Linked DNA regions of Homo sapiens: all the other regions are reported to be linked to region 1. The links are microRNA targets in miRTarBase. Many come from high-throughput screens and were not tested one by one. Region 1 holds a microRNA gene; each other region holds the end of a gene's coding sequence.
Evidence for each region. The annotated mature microRNA hsa-miR-501-5p reads AAUCCUUUGUCCCUGGGUGAGA and lies in region 1 at 1,634-1,655, opposite strand. An mRNA with a match to its seed (bases 2 to 7 or 8) in the 3' UTR can be bound and repressed. Matches are read on the target gene's strand: a 7mer-m8 pairs with bases 2 to 8, a 7mer-A1 pairs with bases 2 to 7 and ends in A, and an 8mer does both.

Region 1 (5,434 bases):
CATTTATGTATAGTGTGTTTATGAGTCCCTACCAGAATGTAGGGTAGCAACCTGTCCATTTTGATCCCTGCTATATCCTTGGTGATGAACATAATACCTGCTGTCTAATAGACACTTGAGTATCTGTGGAAGGAAGAGGAGGGAGAGTTGATGTGCAAAAGCTCTGTCCTTTTAAGTGTAGACAAGGCTTCTTCCCTTGGAATTCTTGAAAAGGGACAGTGAGTCAAGGCAGTACTGGCACACAGGCTGAAAGAATGTGAGTGATGCACCAGGTCAGAGGGACCACTCTGTGAGGACATGTCTCTGTGGATGTAACCAAGTCAGGCCCTTTCTCTTGCACACAGCGTATTTATGTGTGATTGTACTGAGGTTTAGTAGATTCTCCAACATGTATCTGTACCCCACCCACCCTGTACCCCACCCACCCTCAGGACATGCAGATATAATGAATGAGAAGGAGTCCATTCTCCTCCCTGAACTGTACACTCCATGAAGGTAGGGAACCAGATATGGCTCATTCTCTTGTGGGCCAACTGCCCAGGACAGCACCTGCAATAGAGTAGGTAGGTACTCAACAAATAGTCATAGAAAGGATGGAAGGAGGAGGTAGAAGTGCTCTGTCCTATGCGAAGATGTCACTCCCCCTTGCAGAATCCTTGCCTGGGTGCACTGCATTCAGAAAGCACTCTCACCCAGGTAGCAAGGATTAGAGAGGGGGAACCAGGACAGGAGATTCCAGTACCTGTACACCTCACATGTGCATCTAACAAGAAGGCTTGCTGTTCTTGCCTAGTGCATTAACCTTGCATTGAACTAAAGTAGAGAGAAGTTGCTTCGACAAGTATCAGGCTGGGTGCAGTGGCTCACACCTATAATCCCAACACTTTGGGAGGCTAAGGCTGGTGGACTGCTTGAGCCTAGGAGTTTGAGACCAGCTTGGGCAACATAGTGAGACCCCATCTCTACAAAAAATAAACACAAATTAGCCAGGCATGGTGGCACAAGCCTGTGGTCCCAGCTATTTGAGAGGCTGAGGTGGGAGGATCGCTTGAGCCCAGGTGGTTGAGGCTGCAGTGAACTGTGATGGTGCCAGTGCACTCCAGCCTGAGCAACAGAGCAATACTCCATCAAAAAAGAAAGAAAAGAAAAGAGAGAAGAAAAGAAAGGAAAGGAAAGGAAGGAAAGAAAGAAAAGAAAGAGAAAGAAAAAGAAAAGAAGGAAGGAAGGAAAGAAGGAAAAAACAAGAAACAAGTATCAATGTGACAGCAGGAATGAGAAGACTCACACTTATGGGTGGGTTAAGGTGGGAAGAGGGTAGATAAGAAGTTCCTATGTGGCCCACTCACCCTCAGTATATGCAGGGGCAATGAGTGGTGACAAAGTCCATTCTCCTCTCAGGCTATAATATCCAGGAAGGCAGGGGCGAAGTCTGCCTTGTTCATTTCTCTGTGTCCAATGCCCATCATGGTGCCCAATACATATTATTTGTGGAAGGAAAGAATGAATGAGGGTCAGAGAGCAGGCAGGCAAGCAGCAAGCAGCTGAGAGGTGACATACAGATCTTCTGTTCTCCACGCAGAGGGGGCTCACCCTCTCAGAATCCTTGCCCGGGTGCATTGCATTCAGAAAGCACTCTCACCCAGGGACAAAGGATTAGAGAGGAAGAGCAGAGCAGAAGACTCAGGCACCTGCACCCTGCATGTATATCTCCATATATATTTGACTTTCATGGTCCCATTCCTGCAAAGTATCTCTGTGTGCATTTGCTAAGACAGATGCCTCTCCTCAGGGATAGCATATGTATTCATCCCCCTGCACAAGGCCACATGGACATGCCCTCTCAGACAAAACCTCAGACTAGAATGAAAGATATGAGTGGCATCTTTTTCAGATCACACTTGAGGGTCTGCAGGTGCTGGATGTATTTGGGGCCTAGCAAGGAGGTTGGGACAAACTGTATGTGGGCACACATGTACATGCACATGTTGGAAGATGGTACAGAAAATTGGGATACTTCATTCTCTTCTGTTTCTCTGGTAAACTATAAGCTCACTGAGAGCAAAGACTGGCTGTGCAAGTCTCATCACCCAATGTGTGTTTCCCCATTACAGTATCTGACACATAGTAAGCTGGGAGTAAACAGAAAGCTCATGCTCTCAAAGAGGTGTAAGCTTGTCCAGGGCAATGATGAAGTTCATTCTCCCACAGGTGCCCTCTACAGAGCCCAGGGACCTTAGCTGTCTTATTTACCGTTGTATCTCCACCACCCAGTGCAGGATCTGGCACCGCATAGCAAACACAAACATGTGAAAGAAGGGGACAGGTTGTTGGTCCTTCTACATGTAGACAAGGCTCAGCCTCTTTGAATCCTTGAATAGGTGTGTTGCACTGAAATAGCACTCACACCTAGGTTCCAAGGATTCAAGAGGGGGAGCAGACAAGAAGGCTCTGACACCTGCCCTTTTTGTGTGTTTGTATGTGTGCATGTGTAGCTATAACCAAGTCTCACTCTCATGTATATACAGTGTCATTTACTAGGGACTTTACAGAAAGGCAGAGAATCTTTTCTCCTGCAGAGTTCCATGTGAGATCAGAGAAGATTCATGCTTTTGTGTATGTTTGTGGGTGACAGTGGTAATGAGAAGTCCACTCTGTGGCCCACCCACTCTCAGGGCATGTAGGTGTAATGGATGATGAGGAATTCCATTCTTCTTCCTCAACTGTAGCTCCATGAGGGTAGGGACCAAGCATGTCTTGTTAGCAACTGTATGCTCATTACTCAACTTAGTATCATATACAGAAAAGGTGGTCAATAAATACTTGTGGAATGGATGATAGGAGGACAGAAAGACGCTCTGTCCTACACGAAGATGAAGCTCTCGCTCTCAGAATCCTTGCCCAGGTGCATTGCATTCAGACAGCACTCTCACCCAGGTAGCAAGGATTAGAGAGGGGGAGCAGAACACAAAGCCCTGTGAATGTTCAGTGAGAGGGCTCATTCTTCTTCACACAAGGTACTTACTTGTCATGATATAGAAGTAAAGAGAACAGTTCTTGAGCTTTGCATTAAAGATGTCTAGTTAAACACACATTTTGTCTGTTCTCTCAGATAGTAACAACAAAAAAGTATAAACCTATAAAGAGACTGGGAGGAGAGAGGAGTGTGAAAGGGAGGAAAGAGAGAATGAATATAACGCCAAAGCTCATGATCCCGCAAATGCTTTGTGTGACTATGCAACAAGAAGGCAGTACAGTTTAGCACAGTTGTTCTCTAACATGCACCAGAATCATCTGAAGACCTGGGTAATATACAGGTTACAGAGGTTTCTGACTTGGTGAGTCTGGGGTGAGACCCAAGAATTTGCATTTCTAACAAGTTCTCAGGTGATACTGATGCTACTGGTCCAGGGACTACACTGGGAGAATCACTAATGTAGTGGAAAAACCAGGCACTTTGGTATCTACGAACCTTGGTTCAAATGCACGCTCTACCACATATTAGCCTAGAGAATCGACCTGATTTTCCCAAGGTCAAGTTAAACACTTTTGAAGAATGAGGACAATTTAAAGCCTACCTCTTAAATGGTGTCAAGAAAATGAAATAAAGTATAGTACCTGGCACACAGCCGTCAATATTTTTACCTCTTACTCTCTATTTTTATGTATATATGTGTTTGAATGAATGTGCATTTTTAAGGGGGATGGTGAAACTCCTGCATGCAAGGGACAGGTGAGAGAGAAGAGGTCCGAGTATCTGTGAGTGTGAGTGCCTGCACAAGGGGATACACAGATTCATCCTCTTAAATTCCTCACGTGTGAGTTGATGAGGTTCTCCTTCAATCTCCCTAGGTCAACAAAGTTCACGCCCCTTCACATAAGGGATATGAAGGAAAACATCAGAAGTTCCACTCTCTCTGTGTGTGTGTGTGTGTGTGTGTGTGTGTGTGTGACAGAGAGAGAGAGAGAGAGAGAGAGAGAGAGAGAGAGAGAGAAAGAGAGAGAGAGAGAGACAGAAAATGAGTAAAGATGGGGGCATCTGGCCCTGTGAGTATAATCAAAAAGGCTCCTGTCTCTCCTGTCCCTGTATGCTCACATGTCTGCATATGCTGGGCACCCAGCCACATGTGGGCCTCCCTTGCATGCTCATTCTCCTGTATGCCTTGCTTGTGCACATGTGCATATACGAGTATTTGTGTATCTGTGATTGTGAGAGAGAACATTAACAAGGAAGTGCATCTTCATTCAACAGCTACCTAAGGGAAGAATGCCGAGACAGCTCACTGCCCTTTCTGGGAGGGCAAAGAGAGTAGAGTTAGGGCAGGAAGGAACCACCCACTGCTTACCTGATCAGTGGGACTCCGTGTATACAGGTCTACATCCCTAGATGCCTGACCATCCTGGGGGACAAGGTGGGGTGCTTGGGGGGTGGGAACTAAAGTAAATTCATTCTCCAGTATCCCCAGCATGTGTGCACACCTGCACAGTGAGTACAAATGAGCTTTATCCTCCTATATGTGCTAGCTAGGCAGTACACTCAGGGGACTGTGGCTGTACTGTTCTCTTCTGGCTCCCTACAGGAGTAAATAATACTGGCAGGCAGCAGGAGAGGTAGGCGATGTACAAGGGCTCTGTCCTTCCATCTGCAGCTAAGGCTCACCCCATCTGAATCCCTGCCAAGGTGCATTGCATGTGGAGAGCACTAGTACCAGTATCAAGGATTAAAGAGAAGGAGCAAATGAGAAGGCTCAGGCACCTGTACCCCAAGGATAGCATGGGAGTTAGGAAAGAAAAAGCTCCCCTTTTCCAGCCCCTTGAACACATGAAGGCAGGCTGAATGGGAATGATGAACTGTGTTCTCTGGCACAAGCTCACCCCACAGTAAAACCAGGGTCCCTGATGCTCTTGCCACTATTGGATCCCCAAATCCAACAGGCATTCAAAAAGCTCTCTGAAAGGAACTAGGAGAGGTGACAGGCACTCTCTGCTCTGTGCATAACATACCATCTGTGAGTCCTAGCCCAGGTGTACTGCACTGGGACAGCACTTGCATGCGGATGCTACAGATTAAAGAGGCAGTGTCAGCATATGTACCCAACTCATATGTGACAAAGAGGGAAGAGAGGGCTCAGTCTCCTACTCCTCTTTCTCTCACACTTCACATGCAATGTATCAGTAAACTCAACTGGCTGTAACTTTAAAATATAACCACTTTTTACTACCTTCACCACGATCACCCTGATGTAGGCCTCCATCCATCTCTCAACTGAATTATTTCAATGGCCTCCTAACTGGTCTCCCAGTTTCTGCACTTTCTCCTCCTATTTGCCATACAACAGTCAGAACCATACTTGTGAAGCAAAGACACAGAAAACTGTAATCCTGATTTTGAATCAGAAGTATAATGGAATCATGATGTATTTATCTAGAAACAAGA
Region 2 (8,128 bases), not on the chromosome of region 1:
CCCGCCTGGTTCTCCACAGCTCTCTCTTGATAGTCTTTTGGTTTAGAGGTAGCCTGCTTCATTTCTCACTAGCTGGACAAATGGAGGAGACTTTTAAAGATACAACAAAAAGAGAGCTTTGGGGAGAGTTGGCGCTGCATTTACTCCCCGGCGCCCCAAATTAAGAAAGGGTTGATCCTCGCCGTGCTCGCTCGCGCGTGGCCCGGCACTGCAGCCCGTCGGTCTGGCTGACCGCGCCGCATGCCCAGACGAGGAAAGGGTCTCCAGTCGCAGCCCTCTCTCGCACTGGAGCTCACAAGGCAATATTTTAAAAATTGGTCTCTACTTTCCCCCACCTCGGGGCAACACCTTCGGCCACCTGGGCAGGCTCCTTCTGTTCTCTATAGCGTTTCGGACAGAGATTCAGAAGGACGGTGGGGAGGTGGCTGTGGCGGGGAGAGCGCTCCGCGAAGCCAAAGAGTTTGGGGGAAAACCTGAGCGCAGGGGCCGGTTAGGTTTTCCTTTGTTCGCTTCCAAGACTAGGGGCCGAAGATCTTGCTCCCTTTCTTGTCTTGGTGGAAAACCAGAGCCAGGATAAATTCTGCTGAAATGGGCTTGTCGGGAGACAGAGACTGTGAGGATAAGGGGAAAGAAAGGAGACAGACAGGCGCTAGGAGTCGGGAGGACTGACGAGCACTCGGAAGGCGGAAGCGGCGAGGGAAGCGAAATCCTGAAGTTAACCGGTACCGAGTGCCCGGACTGACGCCCCAGCGCGCCGCGCCCGCTGGCAGCCTGTGCGGGGCGGCGAAGTTTCCCCTGCCCAGAAAGGATGGGTTGGGGTGGGTGTTGGTAGGAAGTTTGAGAGGGGGACACGAGGGGCTGAAGAGTTAGCAAGTAACACAGGAACAGGGATTGTATGGTTGCAGTTAGCCTTTAGTTACAAAACGGCCGTCCTATAAGCCAGGCCCGAGGGCCGACTCCAGATGAAATCAGAGACTGGCTGCGCTCCCTGTGTTTACTCAGGTCACTGGGCCGCGCTGGGCACCACTTCCCATGACCTGTTCTGTGTCTGCAAAACCACCAACTCTGGGCTGGGGCAGGAAAACGGGATGTTTAATTGTCTCCTCATATGCGAACAAGGCAATGGACTTGATTCACCCCAAACATTTGTGCATTGGACTCTGTCCTCTATCATTTCTTTATCACCAATATCTATTTATTGAAAGATTTTCAGTTACATTTAAATATGTTGCTAGTTTATATGTATTTAAATGTAACTGCTTGAACAAAATTTAAAACATATATTTTGTATGTTTCAAATAAATCCTGCTAATCTATCACTTTCTGAAATCTGGAAGAGAAAAGGACCTGGCTCCTAACAGGAGGCTCTGTCCGTAGCTCTCCATTTCTCCAGGTTCCTCTGACTCCTCACCTCCCCCATTACCCTTGGGGATGGGTGGAAGGGTAGAGCTCCTCCATTTGGGTTGGTGACAGATTGCACAATGGCCCTTTCCTCCTTCCAGCTCCCCTCCCTCCATCTCACACTTTTTTTTTAACCTACTTTTTTTTTTTTTTTTTTTTTTTAACCATATGGTGTTGTCCTCTATTTCTTAGGGAGAACACCGAAAACAATAACTCCTCCTCCAACAAGCAGAACCAACTCTCTCCTCTGGAAGGGGGCAAGCCGCTCATGTCCAGCTCAGAAGAGGAATTCTCACCTCCCCAAAGTCCAGACCAGAACTCGGTCCTTCTGCTGCAGGGCAATATGGGCCACGCCAGGAGCTCAAACTATTCTCTCCCGGGCTTAACAGCCTCGCAGCCCAGTCACGGCCTGCAGACCCACCAGCATCAGCTCCAAGACTCTCTGCTCGGCCCCCTCACCTCCAGTCTGGTGGACTTGGGGTCCTAAGTGGGGAGGGACTGGGGCCTCGAAGGGATTCCTGGAGCAGCAACCACTGCAGCGACTAGGGACACTTGTAAATAGAAATCAGGAACATTTTTGCAGCTTGTTTCTGGAGTTGTTTGCGCATAAAGGAATGGTGGACTTTCACAAATATCTTTTTAAAAATCAAAACCAACAGCGATCTCAAGCTTAATCTCCTCTTCTCTCCAACTCTTTCCACTTTTGCATTTTCCTTCCCAATGCAGAGATCAGGGAAAAAAAAAAAAAAAAACCCAAACAAACAAAAGCACCCAGGCACCCAGTCTGAGTTCTGGGCAACTGATACGCCTGTTTCAGCAGCCTTTCTTTTTTTTCAATGAATGGGAATTGCAAATCAACTGGATTTTCATTATTTCCTTTTAATTTATATATGGAGAAATGTGAAGAGGGAAAGGAAATGGAAAGAGAAAGAGAAAGGGAGATAAAAATAGTGAAAATAAGAGCCTCCAGGCTCAGAAGAACTGATTACATTCTTAAGGTGAACAGGAAAAATACAATCTATAACTTTCTTTGATGAGGAAAAATTAAGTTTACATTTTTCATATTTAGTGTTAAACAATTTAATGTAGATTAAAATAAAAGACCAGTATTAGGAGGAAAAAACAAGTGCCTAAATGTCTTAATGCTCTCTATGTGAGACAGAAATAGACGTGACCATTAGTAATGCAACTATTTTTGTCAAATTTAGTGGGATTTTTTGGTTGTTGTTTGTTTTCTTGGGTTTTTTTTTTTTAAATGACAAACTCTAAAAATGTACCAATGTGAAAAAACACTTTCCTGAATGCCATTACTCATGCCCTCAAAGCTTTCATATCTGTAGCCTACTCCTGTAAAGGGTTTCTCCTGTTTCTAGTTTCTAGTTTGCAAAGGTATGCCAACGAATCTGGCAACCTGGTATTTGTTACTAAAACAGCATGTGTTTTCAGGTTTCTTTTCTATTGTACCTAAAGCAGTCTAAATTAAAACTTAGTAGAACACCAGGAGTATGATTCTGTTTCTGAAAGGTGAGTGGTGTATTGCTGTCATTGGGCCCTATTTTTTTTTTTAAATATATTTTTCTTTCTTACTTAATGGTGGCTGTGAATTGCAGGGTACTTTGAAGGCCATCATCTGAACCAAGAGTAGTAACTAGATTAATTATATGACAGAAAGAGTGAATTTAGCCTTGGGGTATTTATTAACTTCTATTATTTAGATATGCAATTTTGTTTACCACTATCTCTTCACAGCATTCATATGTTAACTAAGCTCTTTTGTGTTAACAAGTTTATGACAAGACTGTGAAAGTAAAAATAATTTATCTGCTTGAAGACAAAAAAGGGAAGGAGAACAAGGATAGAAACATTGTGAATTAATTTGTACAAATAGAAAGCAGACCAGCAGGACAGGAGCTCTTTTGCAGTGCTGCCGGATGGTGTCTAGAAAAATCCCAGTAATCATGTAGGCTCCATATTATTTTTGCCTGGGGCAAAATGATGTATCTTCTGTATTTAGCTTTTAAAATTAGTGAAACAAATGGCATTATTTATTAAAATTCTACTCAGGATAACAGGATTGGCTTGCTTGTGCTTTGTAAAATATTGTTCCCCAGGGAGAATCTATTTATTTTCTGACATGACAGTTTCATAATTTTGATTTTTTCCCATCTATAATTGTCACCATTAATATATTATTTCTTTCTTACTCTTTCCTATTTCTGTTCTGGTCTAGAAAACTGAGGTGTGCTTGGGGAAATCAAGGCCTTATTTTTTAAAACTGTCAAATAGCTTTGAGTTCCAGGGAGAAATGGTCACTGTACTTAACTGTACACACTTTTACTTATAAAGTCGTTTTTCCCCCTCAGTGATGGACAGATGTGCACACAGCCACTCAGAGACCATCATTTGGTTTGGGAGCTCAGGGTCCCAATCTCCCTTGTTAGTGTTTTGGATCATTAAGTCGGTGTTTATTTAAGTCACTAGGGTGTTTATTCTCCCTGTCTTGGGCCACGGAGAAATGCCACCCTCTGCAGGAGGGGCTCTCACAGGGAATCTCCTCACATTCTTCACATTCACTCCCCAAAACAAACACCCTGCACAAAGATAGCTTTCAATGACCCTGACAGGCTTCAAAGGACGCTGCGGAAATCTCTCTGGAAAATAGGAAGGGCCAATTACTTTAATTTCTTACATGCCGTCTCTTCCTACTCCGGTGACTACCCTCCACTCTCCCAGCTCCGCCTGGGATAATTTTAGGCTCGTGGAAGTTGTGTCTCGCAGGGCGCCCCGGCCCACTTCCTGCTCCCTTAGTTGGTGAATCTTGGAAATGTCTGCAGATCCGGCGAGGAGCAAGAGCGCTGGTCCTGTAAAAGCCCCCGTGATTACTGCTTGTAAACTTGTTAAAAGGACAATTTTCTGTCACAGTCATAAACTCTTTGTAAAACCCCTGGCACTAAATCCAGAGCGCGCATATTCCAGATGTGTTTAATAAGAAATTGCACAATGTGCCTCCTTCCGCCATCCTCGGCTCAGTCTGGGTAAAAGGGGCGAGCAGGAGGAGGCGAGAAAGCTGGATATTGCTTTGAGTTTTTTTGGCAATCATTTCAGAGAGATCATTAGGGGAAACTAACCATATTTTTTTCTTCCCTCGAGGAAATCTTCGAGAACCAGCTGTTAAGGGACCTCCAGTTTACCTTCTGGGCGTCGCAGTTTAACTGAATCTAAAGCCACTTTTCGTTTCTCCTCTACAGATGTCATAACGGTAGCCAAAAGTAATGAACAACGGCTTATAAATAGTTTGTAGGACGAAACCATACAGCATTGTGCCAAGTGAAATGAAAAAAAAAAAAAACACTCGAGTGATGTTTATTTTTTAACGTTTTAAACCTAAACACGCGATTGTTCGAGTCCCCACTCTCTGCTCGCCTTGACCTCTTGGCTGAAAACGAAGCTTCCTAAATTCTCAGAGGCCAAGGGGTTTGGCTCCCGGTTCCCGAATTTTTGGCTTAGTGGGTAGGGGCTCAAGAGCCCAGCGAGCTACAGGGACGGAGAAGGGCACCGCTGGGGCTGGGCACCACCGTTCTTGAACCTGTTCTCTGGGCTAGGACAGCGTGGCTGGGGCCGGACCCCGGGCCGGAGTGGAAGCTTCCAGAAAGAAGCAGTGGCGTTGGCACTTATGGATGAGCTCTGAGTTTGCTGAGCAGCGACCCTTATTAGCGGCTCTCCCTTGTCCGCTGAGGGCCAACGGGACACCTGGCACAGAACTCGCGCGGAGCGGGCCTTCCTCTGCTCTGTGGCAGTGGCACTGCTGCTGCTGCACCGAACGCGGCGGCGGCTGAGGCTGGAGGGGGCTTCATTTCCTACTGCCTCCCCACCGCCTGCAAGTCTTTGGCAAAGTCCGAAGGCAGGACTCCAGGTTGTGGATCCAATAGAGGCTTGTATCCCGCACTTCTCTAGCGGCAGAAGAACTGAAGATCTTTTCCTGTCATCCGCGCACTTCGGAGGCTGTTCTTGCCATTGGGCCCTGGAGAGGCGCGGGAAGCTCGGGCGCCGCTGTCCTCGCTCCGCGCGGGGCAGAGCCTCCTCTCCACCGGTTCAGAGAGAATCGCGCGCATCTCAAGACCCGGATCATAGCGCAGCTCCAGGAGCAGGGGGCCTAGTGGCCCGGCCCGCGGAGTGCCTGAGAGGAGAGGCTGCCAGTATGGATTCGAAGGCCAGACAAGGGAGGAGGCCTCGGCCTGAGCTTCGTGGTACAACTCAGCTGTCGTCGCCTTGGGTACCCCGAAGCCAACTCCCAGGCCCAAGTCTCAGTCGCCCTCTTCGGAGTCTGAGAGCTAAGCTCCAGGCGAGGCACGTGAGCGGCGCTGGACACCCGGCTGCCGGGCTGGTCCCCGCCCTGTGGCGGCAGGATAAAGCCGCCCTGGCAGCGCGTTGCGCCTCCTGCCCGACCGCAGGTGTGAGCGCTCCCTGCCTCCCAGGCCCCGCGCTTCCCGCACAGGGCAGATGGCGCAGGCCTTGGATCCTGGTTCGGAGGCGGCCTAGGCCCTGCTGCCGATTCTCCAGTGCCCTTCTTGCTTCAGACACCTCCTGTCTCCTTCTTCGCTTCCTGGGGTCTTGGCTTTGGTTTTCGGACCCAAACTCTTCACCCGCGCGCTCTGAGGAGGGGTGCCAGGTAGAGAGGACGTCACTTTCTGGGCTTGTCGCTAGAACTTCCCGCGGCAGAGAGAGGGGCCCTGGCTTCTAGTGTCTCCAGCAGAACTGGGGGTGGAGGAGCTCCACTTTCTTGGTGGGGCCAGGTCAGGTATTTCCTTCTTAGCCAGCGGCCCTAGGGAGAGCAGCGGCCTTGTCCCCCACGCACAGCCCTGGCCCCAAGGGGAAGGCACCAGCCTAGGTCTGCAGCGCGCTTCGGGTCAGGCTGTCGCGGCTCACCTTCTGCCCTGATTTGTTAGGGTGGCGTTGACAGGGACAGGTGGGTTAGGTTTAAGGTGAGGGTGGTCGCTGGTAGCCCACGTGCTCTCTCCGCTCCATTTCTCTTTTTTCCAAGCTTTCCCTTGGAGGGGACTCTAAAAACTCTCGGAGACTACCTCCTTCAGCTGCCCGAAGCCAGCGCACTAGTGTGTGTCCCCACCGCGCCCCCATGGACAATTCACACTGAGGGACCCGAAGGCTCAGTCTCATCGCCTGCACGCGTGTTCCGCGACCTTAGCCAGGTAGGCACTTCTGAGCCTCTTAAGGGCATAGTGGCCCCTCCCCCATTCTGACCGAATCCAATAATTCCACCTGGAAGAATATCTAAAGGGGTTGAGTTAGATACGAGTGGTGTGAGCCAGCCAGGAACAAAAATAGCCAAAATCATAGGCGAGTTGTTGGCTATTGGTCTACCCAGAAAAAGCGCTGCCCTGGAAAGGCTGCATTTTCTCTAATATTTTAAACCAAGTACTCACACACACAACTTGGGTCCAGCTGATGAAATTGGAAACCTGTTCTCCCACTGAGGATGACAATCAGGGTTTTAGACGCTGTGGTCCTTTCAGACAGCGAGAAACAACACTGCAGTAGCGTTTAAAAACAAAGAGAAAGAGACTGCTTGAGGCGCGTGGACGCCTGTCTCTTCTCCAATGGAGTTTAAGTTTCTCGCCTTTTAACTTGTTAATGGACAGCTGAGACCCCAGTTCTCAGCAGATAGAGTCCAACCCATCACCTTAAGGTTTGCTCCCTCCCGCTTTGCTACCTGAGAATCTTCCCTCCTCCCCTCTCCTTTCGGGAGAGTGCTCACTGTTTTCCTTTGCCATATGTTAAATATTCTTGAAATAACATTCTTTTTTTTTGTGATTAAACAGAAAAATGCAGGAACAAGCAAAAACCTAAAACCCAAAACTCAAACAATCTTATCTTGGAAAGAGAAAACAGTTACCTTCAGATTTAACACATACTTAAGCTTACCTGAAGTGGCTACCCAACTGTAATTAAAGTATGGTTAGGTGATATTGGGTACTCTCCCTTCTTTACTGCCATTAGTGGTTGCCATTAAAAAGATAAATAAGTAGACAGAGAGACTCTGGCTCTTTGCTTACTATAATAAGGCATGGAAATTAGTTACTATAATAAGGCATGGAAATGTATACCACCTCCCTTCATCTGGTCCCGTCCTTTCCATGCTAACTTAGAAGATCAGTGTTTTATGAGACTGACATAAGTAGACCCAAGTAGAAACACTCGTGGATTAACACAAGGCAAATTTACTTTAAGTTTCTATATAATTTATTTTAATTAGTGATTTAAAATTGATTATTGGTTTTAAAATGCCATGGCTTATTTACAGTAGAAACATTCTTTGGTGGTGGGGGGAGGGGAGCAGTGGGGGGTTGGTGGTGGTTTAAGACCTGAGCTGATATGCATGTGGGATATTAAAGGGGGGAAAAAACAGTCTAGACTACATATTTTTACTGACATAAGCCATTAAGTGTCAGGATTCTTAAAGAATATTGAAATGTTAAAGAACATTTCATAGACATCCTTGATAGAAAATCTGCAGATGCCAGCCAGGATGCCTGTAAAATCAACCTTCTAGATGTTCTTTTCTTGTTATTAAGTGTTTTTACAAACTTAACTACTCTCCTTTTTTTCCCCCTCAAGGAAAAACTTTAGTTGCTTTGCAATAATTCAGTTTTAATTTGAGTTGCCAGTTTTCCAAATAGTCTAAATACCAGGAAAAGACAATGGGATTGTG
Region 3 (7,652 bases), not on the chromosome of region 1:
GCAGACTGGGTCACGAAGCAGCTCAATGAAATCAATTATGAAGGTCAGAGGTTAGGGAATGGTGGGAGGTTCACTTTGGGGTCAGGAGGTTCAGGGTGGAGGGGGTCATGAGACTACCTTGAGGGCGACAGGGAGGACCACTTTGTAGTCAAAAGTTGAACAGCAGGATCGTTGGGCAATGGAGGTTAGTGGGAACCTGTTGGGGGCTGGAAGGGCCACTTTGTGGTCAAAGGGAAGTCCGTGTAATGATGATTAACTTAAAAAGTTGAAAGATGTGGGATTTCAGTTGCAGATTGGTCTCTGGGGTTAAAAGATGGCTTGGAAGACCAGGTGAGGTGATGGTCTCTTCCCTCTCCACAGACCACAAGTTGAAGTCAGGGACTAACACCAAGAAGGCCCTCCAGGCAGTGTACAGCATGATGAGCTGGCCAGATGACGTCCCTCCTGAAGGCTGGAACCGCACCCGCCATGTCATCATCCTCATGACTGATGGTCAGAAGGGACCTCTCTCCTGTCCCAGCCTCCCCACCTTCTCAGACCAGCATGTGGCCCTTAAGTCCACTTGTAACACTATACCCATGGTTGGGGCCCTGAATGTGACTCATAGCTGGCTGTTCATCTCTCCTGTGACCCTTCATAAGGAATTCTTCCTAAGCCCTGTGATCAACTATCTCTAACCCTTCCTCAACTTGCTCACCCTGCCATGTGTATCCCTGCCTTTAGCCAGTTTATCTTCCTTATCTCCTACCCTCATGGTCCTGTCTCTTCTGCAGGATTGCACAACATGGGCGGGGACCCAATTACTGTCATTGATGAGATCCGGGACTTGCTATACATTGGCAAGGATCGCAAAAACCCAAGGGAGGATTATCTGGGTGAGTAACCTGCCTAGGACCCAGCACCCCACTTCCTCAGGGCTTGGACCCTCATCCTTCCTTTTTATCCCTCAGATGTCTATGTGTTTGGGGTCGGGCCTTTGGTGAACCAAGTGAACATCAATGCTTTGGCTTCCAAGAAAGACAATGAGCAACATGTGTTCAAAGTCAAGGATATGGAAAACCTGGAAGATGTTTTCTACCAAATGATCGGTAGGGAGATACAAGGGAATAAAGAACACAACTCTCCTCAGGTTCCCCTGAAGTAATTCATTCTTCCTCTACACCTGAAGCTCTAGTTGCCTGGAAAGCCTTCTTCATTCCTCCTTCTCTACCTCAGTGTCACTATTCTTGTTTCCTGGCACTGTTCACTTAACCTTAGAATCACAGAGCTCTGAGCACTTCAGAGATCTTTCTATAGTCCTACATTTGACACGTGGAAACAGAAGCCAAAGGAGGTCAAGGGACAGCAAGTTAGCAACAAGGGTGGGCTTGAAAACAGCCAGGCCTCTGACAGCTTGATCCCAAGTTCTTTCCCTTTTCAGTCCACCATAGCAGTTTTCTCCTAACACGAGGAAACAAATACCCGTGGTCTTTCCCTTTCTCCTTTTGGGCCTTTGCTCCCCATAGACTCCTACCCAAAAGGCTGCTGCCATTTGGGAATGAAGTGTTCCGAGTTTTCAGCACATTCTCCTTCTCTGCCAGATGAAAGCCAGTCTCTGAGTCTCTGTGGCATGGTTTGGGAACACAGGAAGGGTACCGATTACCACAAGCAACCATGGCAGGCCAAGATCTCAGTCATTGTAAGCACAGAATCCCAGTAGTGGGGACTTGGGGGAGGTGAGGTCAAGGTGAAATGGGAGTAGGGGAAGGAAAAAATGGCCATAAGAGATGGTGGTTTGTGAAAGTTGAGCTTTCCCTCTCTACTGTTGTGTCCCCAGCGCCCTTCAAAGGGACACGAGAGCTGTATGGGGGCTGTGGTGTCTGAGTACTTTGTGCTGACAGCAGCACATTGTTTCACTGTGGATGACAAGGAACACTCAATCAAGGTCAGCGTAGGTAAGGATGCAACTGAAGGTCCTGGGCTGCACCTATGCTCTCCAGGCAACACCTCCCACTTTCTACAGATCCTACACTCCACCCATCCTCAATGCAGCCCCATTCCTTGCACCCCAGACCAGTCAGGGATGGGGGAAGACGTGAAGTTAGGAATGACACGGGGCCAGAGGCAGGAAGCTGCCCACAAAGAGGTGGTACCTACTCTCCTACTTCAGGAGGGGAGAAGCGGGACCTGGAGATAGAAGTAGTCCTATTTCACCCCAACTACAACATTAATGGGAAAAAAGAAGCAGGAATTCCTGAATTTTATGACTATGACGTTGCCCTGATCAAGCTCAAGAATAAGCTGAAATATGGCCAGACTATCAGGTGAGAGCGTCCAGATCCCTGAGGAAAGGCTGGGAAAGGCTGGAGGACTGGGGTGAGGAGCAGGCCTGGTTTGCTGTTCTCCTTGTCCTTTATAGGCCCATTTGTCTCCCCTGCACCGAGGGAACAACTCGAGCTTTGAGGCTTCCTCCAACTACCACTTGCCAGCAACAAAGTAAGACATACTTGGCAAGAGGATAAGGATGAGATCCCAAGAGACAAGTGGGGCATGAGAGGGAGGTGCAATAGGAAGAGATGATGCCTGGCCCAGAACCTAGCTCTAGAAGGGCTTAGGGGACATCTACTGAGTGACAAAGGCAATGGGGAGATGACAGTGGTGGGAGCAGCTGAAGTGACGCAGTCTATTCGTCCAGAGGAAGAGCTGCTCCCTGCACAGGATATCAAAGCTCTGTTTGTGTCTGAGGAGGAGAAAAAGCTGACTCGGAAGGAGGTCTACATCAAGAATGGGGATAAGGTGAGAAACGGGCATCCTAAGGAGGCACTCTAGGCCCCAATCCTTCCTAAGCCACTTCTGTTCATTACTTCTCCATGCTTCCCACCTCCCCTACAGAAAGGCAGCTGTGAGAGAGATGCTCAATATGCCCCAGGCTATGACAAAGTCAAGGACATCTCAGAGGTGGTCACCCCTCGGTTCCTTTGTACTGGAGGAGTGAGTCCCTATGCTGACCCCAATACTTGCAGAGGTGAGAGAATGCTCTTTGGTTGTGCTACAAGTGCCCAAGGCCCAACAGTCCTTTTCTCTACAGCTTCTCCTCTCCTTGCAGGTGATTCTGGCGGCCCCTTGATAGTTCACAAGAGAAGTCGTTTCATTCAAGTGAGTCCTCCCTTTCCTATCTGGGGAGATGCCAAGTGGTCAGCATGGGCCCCAAAGCAGGAAAGCTCAATGCATGTGGCTAGTAATTCGAGGTAGGCAGAGCCTGCCTCACCTTAGGACCGCATGTCTTGCCTGCGTGTGTCAAGAACGAGGCTGAGCTGGGTCCCTAGTCTGATTCCTTTAGGTCAGCTAAGACACAAGCAGGAACAGCCATGCTTCCAGGATTAGGAATTCTACTGAATGATCCATGGCACCCCACTGCCTCTGCAGGTTGGTGTAATCAGCTGGGGAGTAGTGGATGTCTGCAAAAACCAGAAGCGGCAAAAGCAGGTACCTGCTCACGCCCGAGACTTTCACATCAACCTCTTTCAAGTGCTGCCCTGGCTGAAGGAGAAACTCCAAGATGAGGATTTGGGTTTTCTATAAGGGGTTTCCTGCTGGACAGGGGCGTGGGATTGAATTAAAACAGCTGCGACAACACCTGTGTTCCAGATCCTTTTGGGGCAAGGGAGTGGGGAACAGGCACTGGCCATGTTGTTACACTGAGATCAAACCTGACAGCCGTTTTTAAAGGTTTAACCCCAATCCCAAGTGCTGAAAAACCAGAGGCTGAGGGAGATGTGTAAGCTTCCACCTCAGTGTTTTACTGAGACCAGCATTGGGGCATATGAGGCACAAGGAATCCAGCTCTGTTCCCTAGAAGCCATCCACAAGGTTTTCCTTGTAGACGTCATCACTGTAGACAATCTGGGTCCTCTTGTCCCGGTGGCAACCCTTAGGGCTGTTCTGGACAGCTAGGGAGGGAGGAGAGGAACAGTTAAGGTCTAAAGGAGATCATAGAACAGACCCTGAGGCTGACTCCTGACCACCTCACTCCTGGCCACTGGCCCCTGGAAGCCCAGTTTCCACGCTGCCCTCTGGTGGCCAGGATGGCCTGTCTTCCTTAGCTCCTTTGTGCCAACCCATGGCCAAGAAAAGTATAAGTGGACATTTTGATGAATGTTTTGTTCTTAGAAAAATCCCAAATGTCATTGTTGAGACACGTGAATGATATTAACCCACTACTTACAGTCAGTATGTCAGAAGCTAAAAACTAGAAAACCTCTGTAGCCCTTTTTTGACATGCTGGTCAATTCTAGTTCCTTTCTTTTGCCTGAAGGGCCACTGTAGCTGAGCCCTTCTTTCTGCTCACTCCTTTCCCAGGAAAATCTACTTTCAGGGAAAATGGATTATTCACACTAAGAAATGCTACTAGCTCCACCAGAACTCATTCAGGGTGTAGCTTTGGCCCTCACCATTCTCTCTCAAGCCTCTAGCTGTTTCTTCCCCTTCCTCTTTCCTCCCTCCACCAGACATGTTACTCTCTTCACCCCATCCAATGGTTCCATCCCCACCACCCTTGAGCTACAGAGAATCTCTCTCACCCACTCCCATCCTGTGATCTCTGTGCCTCAACACTGCTGGCTACTCCCTCTTTCTCAAAGTGTGTGTCCTTTTGCTTCAGTGGCCCAGGCCCCTGCGGTGCTGCTCCCAGCCCTCCGACCCCTCCTCCTGTCTCCTTTGCTAACGTTAGGCTCAACGTTAGCCTAACATGTCAGGACAGCTGGGGACATGTGGGGTGTGAGGTGAACAGTCCTGTTTCCTAACATAGTCCCAGAGTACTCCTCAAACTGAGTCCTGGGTCGTTTTTTTTTCTCTGAAATCAGAGTCTCCCTGATGATCCTATTGTTTGGCAGCCACCCTGTGATGTGGATGACTTAATCTATGTTTTCCTTCCTTACCTCACACCTGAGTTCCAGATCCCTGATTTCGAATACTTATGAAACTCACTCTACTCCATCTCAAAATGAACAAGCCCCATGAGACACTCATCTTCCTCACCAATCTCACTCCAGCTCCCACTTTCTTCCCTGTTCCAGTCACTGCTTTGGAAGCTGTTTTCAATCCTTTTCTCTCCTTTCTTTACCTCTAACTGACAGAGGATCTGAAATTTTCCTTCCCATTCCCATAGCCTCCGCACACACTCTGACCTCGATCATCTCTAGGAAACCCAAGGATGTGTGGGGGAACCAAAAGGAATGGCCTGTGGGGGAGAGGATGGGAAAGGAAGAATCCCATTCTTACCGAGGGAGCCCCAGACAGACTTGCCAGTAGCGGCATCCAGCATGGGCTGTTTTCGGGCTATGTTGACTTTGAGCTGTACAGACTCCACCTGGGTCCCGTTGAGCTGAAGCAGAAGAGGGGAGGCAGAGGATGGGGAGGAAAACATTACAGATAAACCAAAGAAGTTATTCCAGGAGTTGCTATCCTAGGAGGAGACTGAATAAGGAATCTGAGAATGTGAGTTTTTCTGTGTGAATAGGGAGAGGCTTTCTTTATCAAGAGGAACCAACTTCTTCCTGGCATCTAGTATTTTGAGGAGAACACATGAGAACAGCAGAAGCGATGGGAAGAACAGATTTGGGAAGTTCCAACCTCAGCAACGGCCTGATCTGCTGACTCCATCTTTTCATAGGTGACGAAGGCACAGCTGGGATAAGAGAAAACACGGTCAGTGGAGAGCCAAGGGGCTCTTCTGGACCCAACCAAACCCAGTGATAATAGGCGGCTGCAGGGAGGGCAGCTTCTTCCCTCAGGTCTCACACCCCAGGATTCTCCCAGGACTTCTCATCATGCCCTGTTGTCATCCTTACTTTCTGGGTGGGTCCATGGAGAGGTCAATGATGTTTCCAAAAGGAGAGAAGGCCCCACGGAGAAGGGTGGGTGTCATGTCTTCTCCATATACATAGAGAGTATTCCCTTTCCTAGGGGCTCGCCGTTCAGGGAATGAATCCGACCCTTTGGGAGCACAAATCATAGTCACAAGACATAGACCATGCCACATTTCACTTAGTAGGACCCACATAAACCTCAGTTAAGGTCACCTTGACCTCCAGCCAAAATCACTCACTGCGGAAAGGACCCTCTCGGTCTCGGTCTCGATCCCGCTCCCGATCCCTGTCCCGTTCCCGGTCTCGATCTCGATCCCGATCCCGATCCCTGTCCCGCTCTCTGTCTCTGTCTCGATCCCGGTCTCGATCCCGCTCCCGATCTCGGTCTCTGTCCCGGTTCCTCTCATGGCTGCGGTCCCGGCTGCGGCTTCGGGGAGGGGAGGCTGAGGAGTGGGCACCACTGCGTTCTTCATAGCCCCAGTCAAAGCTTCGAGGGGGACCATCACCAGCCCCTGGGCCCTCTGCCTCTTCTCCATCTGGTCCTAGTTCTCGAAGTCGATCACTAGAAGACACAAAGCTGGGGAGATGCAGACTGAAGATCAAAGGGGGGTTTTACCTTCTCCCCTCAGACCCTGTGGAGACTCAATATTCCCTCTATAGCCCAGCTCCTACAGCCCAAACCTCCCAAGGACTCAGGCAATCAACTCCACCAAATGGGCCCAGCCTTATCTCTACTCTCTAACCTCTCATACAGAGATTTCCTCTGGGGACGTCTGGATGACTGTAAAAGAGACCAAGAACAGTTAAGATGATTTCCAGTTGCTGACATGTGGTCCAAAATATATTTGTCTCTCATATTCCTCCATCCCCAACCCCTCAGGGACAGAAATTAGGAGCCTTTACCTCTTGCAGGTCATCATCAGCAGATATGCTCCTCTGGAACGGCTGGAAAGTGGGGACTGGTCCCTTCTCGGGGTCCTGGAGTGGTGAGAGACCTACCTCAGTGTGGAGCAGGAGGTTGCCCAACCATGGACCAGAGGTGTTCCTCTTCCCTCACCCTCTTCTAGGTTTCCTCTGATCTTTTCTTCCCTTTTAATTCTACATACATTTCTTATTTGACGTGGTTTTACTTATTTTTTTTTTTTTTTTTTGAGACACGGTCCTGCTCTGTTGTCCAGGCTGGAGTGCAATAGAGCAATCGTAGCTTGCTGCAGCCTTGACCTCCCATGCTCAAGCAATCCTCCTACCTCAGCCTCCCTAGTAGCTGGGACTAGAGATGTGCTCTACCATGCTTGGCTAATTTCTGTATTTTTTTTTTTTTTTGTAGAGATAGGGTTTCACTATGTTGCCAGGGCTGGTCTCAAACTCCTGGGCTCAAGCAATCCTCCTACCTCGGCCTCCTAAAGTGCTGAAATTAACCAGGAATGAGCCATTGCCGCACCTGCCATTGTGGCTTGTTTTGTTTTGTTTTTGAGACAGAATCTTGCTCTGTCGTCCAGGCTGGAGTGCAGTGGTGTGATCTCCACTCACTGCAACCTCTGCCTCCTGGGTTCAAGTGATTCTCTGGCCTCAGCCTCCTCAGTAACTGGGACTATAAGTGTGCACCACCACATTCTGCTAATTTTTTTTTTTTTTGAGACGGAGTCTCGCTGTCACCCAGGCTGGAGTGCAGTGGCACAATCTCGACTCACTGCAAGCTCCGCCTCCTGGGTTCAAGCAATTCTCCTGCCTCAGCCTCCCAAGTAGCTGGGACTACAGGCGCCCGCCACCACGCCCGGCTAATTTTTGTATTTTTAGTAGAGATGG
Region 4 (8,128 bases), not on the chromosome of region 1:
ATGCCTCTCTTCTGAAATGGTCTTATTTTAAACAAATGTGAGCAAAAGAAAATATTTATGAGATTCTAAAAATGAAGACATAATTTTGTAGTATAGAATTTTCTTGGCCAGGAATGGTGGCTCATGCTTGTAATCCCAGCACTTTGGGAGGCCAAGGTCAGAGGATTGCTTGAGCCTGGAAGGTTGAAGATGCAGTGATTCATGATTATACCACTGCACTCCAGCCTGGGCAACAGAGCAAGACCCTGTCTCAAGAAAAGAAAAGAATTTTATTTTTCTTTTCAGACAAAAATAGACTTTAAAATAATAATGGAAGAACAAATATGATGATCACAATTATCAGAGTAATTACTTTATGACAGTCAGCAATAAGATTCTAATCTTTAAATATTCCTCTGCTTAAATCATTATATTGGAGTTTTGATCTATAATATATTCCCACCCTGACCCAAAAATTGAAGAAGGACAAGGAAAAATGTTGTTCCAAGAAACAAAGATGTAAGTAAAAAGGCATAAGGAAGGAAAAAAAACTTTTGAAGCAAAATGTGATTGAGGAGGATGAGCAGACCAATTATTTTTGGTTTGGTCAGCTTACATAATGATTATCGTTCTTTGGTTTCTCAGTTTCTAGTGGGCTTCATTGTTTGCTTCCCAGACCAGGATGAAGACACTCCAGTTTTTCTTCCTTTTCTGTTGCTGGAAAGCAATCTGCTGCAATAGCTGTGAGCTGACCAACATCACCATTGCAATAGAGAAAGAAGAATGTCGTTTCTGCATAAGCATCAACACCACTTGGTGTGCTGGCTACTGCTACACCAGGGTAGGTACCATGTTTTGCTGGAAGCAAGGGTGTTGAAGGTCTGTATTAGGCCGGTTTCATTAGTTTCTACTTTATCAATATTTTATGTATTCTAAGTAACAGCCATGAGTCCTTTAGCCAAGACTGTCTGTGTTGTGATTGGGGTTAATGACCACGATATCACTTAGATGTTTGGGCTTGGATTTGATTTGGGTAAATTTAGGAAAGCCTCAGATTTAATCTGATCAATTTGGTACTAGTCCAACTTTGCATCTACAGGGAAAAAGTATTTCTATGTTACGTTTTTACACATAGAGAGATAAACATGGAAACATACATATATTTAATCATAAAGGACCTATAATATTCTCATAAAGGCAATTTCTTTAACTGACACTACATCTTTGACACAAAATCACACCAAAATATGTCTCCAAGTCACATAAAAACATAGACAGCCACTTAAAAAAATTGTCTTCCTGGCCCTACTAAATACAAATGCCAAAAAACAGCCTGAGAACACAATCAATTCTTGCAGACTGTTAGAACAAAAATGAATCAGCAAACCCACTCCCTTCGTTATAGCATTGAGAAAACCAAGACATAGAGGCATCAGTTGCTAGTCTGTGTTTGCAGTTTCCTTGCATTAATACAAGTAGAGAAATAGTTTCCATGGTGCTTTCTTTTTTCTCTGCAGCACCCCTAATTATCTATGCAGAATTTCATTCTATAAACTAAAATTGAAAATGGCAACTTTTTAAATGAACGATACTTTATTTGACGGTAAATGAGTTTGATCAAACTCCATTTATTACACAATTTATTGCACCTTCTTGGGATATACATTTGGTAGGATGATATTAAAATAAACAGAAGCCCCAATTTCTCTACGCAGTATAAATAATTTTTCCACTGGAAAGTGCTACTACAAATAATTTCTACCTGGATTAAAAATTCTTATATGCAAACTGCATATCCTTTGAAACTAGGAACCCTGCAAAGTATACAGCTTTCAAGGGAGAAAAATGTCCACAAGGAGTTGGAATATTTAAAATCTTATGTTAGCCTTAGCAAACATGTTAACTTAAGCATTAAAATTTAAAATTATATATTTTTGACCTTTTATAAATACTCAGGGCAGTGTATTTTAAAATATTTTTTCTGAGACATTGGATATCTTTGTTTATGGTTTGTTATTAATACAGCTTTCAATTAAATATGAAAAGTCAACTTAAAATCCTGTCATGTTTTTCATCATTTTTCTATGCTAAAATTCAAAGTTCCTTTATATTTTGAAAAATAGTTAATATTTTGATATAGCCATAGGAAGTAAGAAAAGAAATTACTTGTATTTTCTGGAAGATTTCAAGAACAATTTAGAAATGTAAATAGCATATAGGTCATTTATGAGGTCATGTTTTAATGGGTAAATGTTAGAGCAAGCAGTATTCAATTTCTGTCTCATTTTGACTAAGCTAAATAGGAACTTCCACAATACCATAACCTAACTCTCTTCTTAAACTCCTCAGGATCTGGTGTATAAGGACCCAGCCAGGCCCAAAATCCAGAAAACATGTACCTTCAAGGAACTGGTATACGAAACAGTGAGAGTGCCCGGCTGTGCTCACCATGCAGATTCCTTGTATACATACCCAGTGGCCACCCAGTGTCACTGTGGCAAGTGTGACAGCGACAGCACTGATTGTACTGTGCGAGGCCTGGGGCCCAGCTACTGCTCCTTTGGTGAAATGAAAGAATAAAGATCAGTGGACATTTCAGGCCACATACCCTTGTCCTGAAGGACCAAGATATTCAAAAAGTCTGTGTGTGTGCAATGTGCCCAGGGGACAAACCACTGGATCAGGGGATTCAGACTCTACTGATCCCTGGTCTACTGGCAGAGGGAACTCTGGGAATTGAGAGTGCTGGGGGCCAGGACTCCATCATGATTCAGCTCTATATTCCTAGGTCTGATTTCATAAGGTTTATTCAGTCTTAACTCACAGACTTGTGCCTGGTTTCTTCTTTAAAAATCTTAGAAATCTTCTCAGGCAATGCCTCTCTCTTAGGGGGAAACATAAGCCTAGAAGGAGGAAGCAGTAATGGGAGTGAGTGAAAGAACTAACTGCAGCAGTCTTCTGGTAGACTCTTGGGCCCTCTAGAGCAAGGTCAGCATCTTCAGCATTGTAGCGTCAATGCCTAGCACTCTGCCTGGAACTTAGAAACACAACAATGACTTCTTTAGATCAGAAAGGTCAAGGGTAGAAAATACTGGAAGACGATGTTTGAGGTAAGCTGATGAGGCTGCCCGCAGCCACACCAGTCCCATGAAAGTTAGTGGCATCAGTTCCACCTCGCCTTTTCTCCAGCACATGGAGTATTGAGACATGATGTATCTTTCTGAATTGTTTGGTACAGATGGGGAGTAACAGAGCTCAAGATTTCCAAGCTATTACTACCAAGCCTGTTAGTTAAGGGCAAAGGCAAGAAATTGTAATTTGGGGCTGTGGAAATTAGCCTGCCTCTATTCATTACTTAAACAAATTGATCACATGCTACTAGGCTCCTGCAAAACTCCTTTTTGAGATAAAGGGAAAAAACCAAACTATCTCACCCTACCCTCCCTAGGATCCACTTCTTTGGAATGACAAAGGATTTGAAAGTAGGTTTGAAAGCAGTTTCAGCAATTTAATAAATATAATTAATTTGTCTACAAATATATTTGTATAAATAAATAGCTCCTTTAGAAAGAATTAGCCATGGGGGACGAGGGGAAACTGCTGTTTTCTAGGATCCTGTCTACATCAATCTTCTATTTTATCCATCCATGTTCTCCCAAATCTGTGCTTTCTTTCAACAGGTTATATATTAAAACTATTTCATGAGTTGATTTCTTTTAAACGTGTTAACTGTCTTAGTTATGCACTCAGTTTCACACTCATATTGTTTAACTAATTTATTTAAATCTTATTTTTTTAATAAAGATGCTAGCCACCAGAGTCACAGGCTTGGATTGTTTTATGTACAAACAGATGACTTAGATATTCTGTATTTTATAATATTAGTGGAATGAAATCTTAAAATATAATTCCCAGTGTTTCTATAAATATTACCTTTCCTTATCTTTGGAGATATTAAAAATAATTTTGTTGGATTTCTGAAGTGTTTTGTCACTTAAATTTCCTGTCATTTTTTGAAGACATTTTCTGATGTAATTTGGGAGAAAAAAAGCATAGAGAGAATCACAGAATGGGTGGAGATACTAGAGTTTCTATAGTTTACTTCTTGAATTTTTGAGATGGAAAAATTAAAGCCCAGTGATATTAAGTGGCCCACCCAAGATCACTGTCCTAGTCCTTTTGGGCTGCTATGACAGAATACCTTAGACTGGGTAATTAATAAACAACAGAAATTTATTGCTCACAGTCTGTAGGCTGGGAGGTCCAAGATCAAGGTGCCAGCGGATTTCTTGTCTGGGGAGGGAGGGCCTGCTCCCTACTTCAATGCTGGTGACTTTTTGCTGCATCCTCATACAGTGGAAACAACGGAAAGCTCCCTCAAGTCTCTTTTATAAGAGCACTAATCTCATACATAAGAGGTCCATTTTCATGATCTAATCACCTCCTAAGGCCCAACTTCTTAATACCACCACAATAAAGATCAGGGTTCAACATGAATCTTGGAGCAACATAAACGTTCAGACCACAGCAATCACAAAGACTGTTTGTGGCAGAGCCAGGATTAGAATCCTAGCCTCCTTGCTCTTAATCCGGCTCTCCTTTGACTACTCCACCATAATAAGAAGTCATTTTGGTAAAGATTGAAGCAAAACTACAGATATTATTATAATAATCATCTCTGTCCCTTCTAATCTGGTATTGGGTGTGGCTTATAGCAATGCATTGAAATTAGGGCTATATTAACAATGTTGAATAAGATGCTTTAAATTATAGCCTTTTCCTTCTTCCTGTAGTTTTGCAGACCAAAATAATAAACCTTTACATTAGGGAGAGTAAAGGACAATGGCTTCAGATTTATGTTGTCTCAATCATCTTAAGCAGATGTGTCATCTCGAACAAGTTACTTAAATTCTCTGGACCTCAGTTTCCTCAACTGTATAATGGGGATAATAATATTTCCTGCTTTAGAGAGTTGTGTTCATGATTAATGAAATAACAGATAAAAGGGCTTAGAGCAGTACTTGGCACATAGTAATTCCTCAATAAATATTAGTTGATGGTTGTCCCTTGAGAGAGACAATGCAGTAAAATGGTAAAGTCAGATTTAAGTTAAGGACAACCCAGCTCATACTCTTTCTGGTCTGAGCAAACTAGTTAACCCCTTTGGGTCTCACCTTTCTCACTTTTAAAATGGAGTAAAAATGGTAACTATCTCACATAGTTGCTGGCAGATTTAAAAATATAATGCAGTTAAAGCACTTCAGAGGCCAACAGAGCTATAATCCTGCTGGAGAGAGTCCCCTTTACCACTTAGTTCAAATGGCCAAGGTCAAAATGCGAGTAAAAAGCAGAAGTTTCTTCTTACGGCACTCCCATGCCAAATAGGAGTACACTCCTTTCTGGAGCAGCAACAAAAACCTGTGAACCCTCCAGGTGGAGGCCAAGAAAAGGTCCATCTCCATGGGCTGTCATTTTAGTTGAAGTCTGATAATCCCTTCTCAGCACTATGGTGGACATCTCTTGGCTCTGGGCAGTCCTCGCATGACTTTAAGAATTGTATGTCTAGGCCGGGTGTGGTGGCTCATGCCTGTATTTCCAGCACTTTGGGAGGTCAAGGCAGGCAGATCACCAGGTCAGGAGTTCGAGACCAGCCTGACCAACATGGTGAAACCCCATCTCTACTAAAAATACAAAAATTAGCTGGGCATTGTGGTGCATGCCTGTAATCCCAGCTACTCAGGAGGCTAAGGCAGGAGAATCACTTGAACCCGGGAGGCAGAGGTTGCAATGAGCCGAGATCGCGCCATTGCACTCCAGCCTGGGCAACACAGCGAGACTCAGTCTCAAAAAAAAAAAAAAAATTGTGTCTAAACCACAACTTTGACCATGCCAATTAATTAATGAGCTTTCCAATTGTTTTCAGGAAAAAAAATCTTAATTCTTAGCTGAAACATGAGGCCTATCATGGTCTGACCTCTGATTATTTAACTTCTTACCTCTTCCGCTCCCCACAAGGGTTGCTGAATCTAGAGATTAGTTTTGAGGATTGAAGGATTGGGGGCCTTCCATTCCTGAAATGCTTTAACTAAAATACCATGCCATTCATCCCATGAGATATTTGGTGGACTATAATTGAAAACTGGTCAGTAAGTCAGCAGCACTTGAATCATAAAAATGTGAGGCCAGTACATAAGAATAATAAACACTGAGTTCATGGTAGTGAGGAAGGTGAAGGAGAAATGGAACTGTGGAAAAGTACCCAGAGAGCCTCAAACTGTATTTATAATGTTCTATTTCTTACAAATATGATATAATGTTAATATATAAAAAACTAGGAGACTGCTGTACAGGTGTTTACTATATTCCTGTAGGCATGTTCAGTGTTTACTAGTTGACAACTAACATGGCATCTTTTTATGCACTGTACATTTAATTTAGATTTTATGCCTAATATAAGAAAAGTGAAATGGGCCCGGAGCCTAGTCTGAAGTCACACAGCTAGTGTGCAAAGCCTCAATCATTAGTATGCATTTAGTGACAGAGGTAGAGAATTCAAATCTACTTACGAAGATATGTGCCTATGTCTTCCTGGGTATAAAGCTGGACAACATTTTCCCACCTTCTTTGCAATCAAGTGTATCTGTGTGCCAGCTAATGGAATGTGGGCAGAAGTACTGCACATATTTTCACACACAGCCCATAAAAACCTCTCATAAGTGATCATCTATTCTCTTCCTCTATTTGCTGGATGTCAATCCTGAAGGTGACTAGGAAAGTTTGTGTTGATGAAAACAGAACCATTGTCAACCTGGATCCCCGAATGTCTGCATGGAGCAGTGTGCCCAATATCAACAACCCCTTATAGCAGGCTGTGTGGATGCTATGCATCAACACCGTAAACTTCTAGTCACTGACATTTGTGAGTTTATTCGTTTTAAAAAATGCATTATTTTAACTTACAAATATTGGTACTGGAAGTGGCGTGTTGCATTAATGAAAACCTTAGCACATATGGCATTGGCTTAGTGGTTGTACAATAGGAGAAAAGAAAGTAGTAATCATAGTGGCAACCAAAATGAGTGATTGAAAGGCACGTCTCAGTCACCAAGGTTTATTGTGCCAGTTTGAGGATGCATCCAGGAAAAACTCAAGTAACAGACACATCTGTGGCTGTTTTTCCAAAGAGGTTCTCGGAGGTTTAATATTTATACATTTTCTTTTACAAAGGTAGAGGAGTCGGTGCGGCAATGAGACAAATGATTACATACTTGTGAGATTTTAGTTAGTACTCGGTAAATCTACATTTTATGTAAGATAAGGTGAACAAAGTAAATAGGAATGGAGGAAGCAGACATCTCAGCGTAGAGTGAAGGAATGATTACTCTCATCTTCTCTTTGTTCTGTACCTGGGAAAATAAACTAGTAGATATTATCAGAGTGGACTTTTTTTGAAAAAGCTGGTGTCTAGTTAGCTCTTAGGGAAGAAAGCCTAAGAGCTTGGAGGGAATATCATGAAGCCTTTCGGACCTCCCATCCCATCATGCCATGAACTTAGCTTCCAAGTTTTCTATGGGGTCCCCTTGGCCAAGAGAAGAATCTGTTCTGTCAGTTAGTGGTTTAGAATGTTATTATTTCTCAAGAGTACAACTTTCGGCTGGACATGGGGGCTCATGCCTATAATCCCAGCGCTTTGGGAGGCCAAGGTGGGCAGATCACCTGAGGCCAGGAGTTCGAGACAAGCCTGGCCAACATGGTGAAACCCCATCTCTGCAAAAAATATAAAAAATTAGCCAGGTGTGGTGGTGCGTGCCTGAGGCCTAAGAATTGCTTGAAACCAGGATGCAGAGGTTGCAATGAGCTAAGATGACACAACTGCACTTCAGCCTCAGGGACAAAGTGAGACTCACAAAAAAAAAAAAAAAAAAAAAAAGAGTACAACTTTCACCTGGGAAAACATGAAGGCTGGCCACATGCCTATTCAGTCCTTAGCTTTATGGCAGGGTCAGCAAATTATGCCCTGAAGGCCAAATCTGGCCCATCACCTTTTTTTTTAAACAAAGCTTATTGGAACACAGCCACCCTAATTTTTTACGTATTGTCTATGATTGCTTTTGTACTACAAAAGCAGAATTCAAAGACCATATGGCCC

Region 2: miRTarBase lists SIX1 as a target of hsa-miR-501-5p. Seed matches in the 3' UTR shown: 7mer-A1 at 3,253-3,259.
Region 3: the mRNA of NELFE is a reported target of hsa-miR-501-5p. Seed matches in the 3' UTR shown: 7mer-m8 at 3,628-3,634.
Region 4: the mRNA of FSHB is a reported target of hsa-miR-501-5p. Seed matches in the 3' UTR shown: 7mer-m8 at 3,449-3,455.

Annotation. Positions count from the first base shown.
Region 1 is chrX:50,005,956-50,011,389 of GRCh38, reverse strand. It overlaps MIR501 (microRNA 501), which reads right to left and starts at 1,668; the gene lies at 1,585-1,668. All of the region lies in intron 3 of CLCN5 (chloride voltage-gated channel 5), which reads right to left. It overlaps MIR500A (microRNA 500a), which reads right to left and starts at 2,959; the gene lies at 2,876-2,959. It overlaps MIR362 (microRNA 362), which reads right to left and starts at 2,426; the gene lies at 2,362-2,426. It also overlaps MIR500B.
Region 2 is chr14:60,640,043-60,648,170 of GRCh38, reverse strand. SIX1 (SIX homeobox 1) reads left to right here. Exons shown (of 2, transcript NM_005982.4): 2 at 1,594-4,750. The coding sequence ends at 1,888. SALRNA1 (senescence associated long non-coding RNA 1) reads right to left here. Exons shown (of 1, transcript NR_126480.1): 1 at 7,755-8,128. Among named protein-coding and RNA genes, the nearest start is that of MIR9718, 4.5 kb to the left of the region's middle. RefSeq lists enhancers at 1-30, 31-652, 653-1,275, 3,705-4,267.
Region 3 is chr6:31,948,470-31,956,121 of GRCh38, forward strand. It overlaps NELFE (negative elongation factor complex member E), which reads right to left. Exons shown (of 11, transcript NM_002904.6): 5 at 6,750-6,824; 6 at 6,590-6,627; 7 at 6,086-6,423; 8 at 5,829-5,973; 9 at 5,611-5,665; 10 at 5,260-5,362; 11 at 3,618-3,929. The coding sequence ends at 3,832. It overlaps CFB (complement factor B), which reads left to right. Exons shown (of 18, transcript NM_001710.6): 7 at 1-43; 8 at 361-492; 9 at 774-875; 10 at 951-1,088; 11 at 1,581-1,678; 12 at 1,817-1,934; 13 at 2,150-2,303; 14 at 2,399-2,475; 15 at 2,675-2,775; 16 at 2,872-3,004; 17 at 3,086-3,135; 18 at 3,406-3,615. The coding sequence ends at 3,561. Among named protein-coding and RNA genes, the nearest start is that of MIR1236, 4.6 kb to the right of the region's middle.
Region 4 is chr11:30,231,242-30,239,369 of GRCh38, forward strand. FSHB (follicle stimulating hormone subunit beta) reads left to right here. Exons shown (of 3, transcript NM_001382289.1): 2 at 625-820; 3 at 2,329-3,953. The coding sequence starts at 662. The coding sequence ends at 2,559. The region is part of intron 1 of ARL14EP-DT (ARL14EP divergent transcript); the gene reads right to left. Among named protein-coding and RNA genes, the nearest start is that of FSHB, 4.3 kb to the left of the region's middle.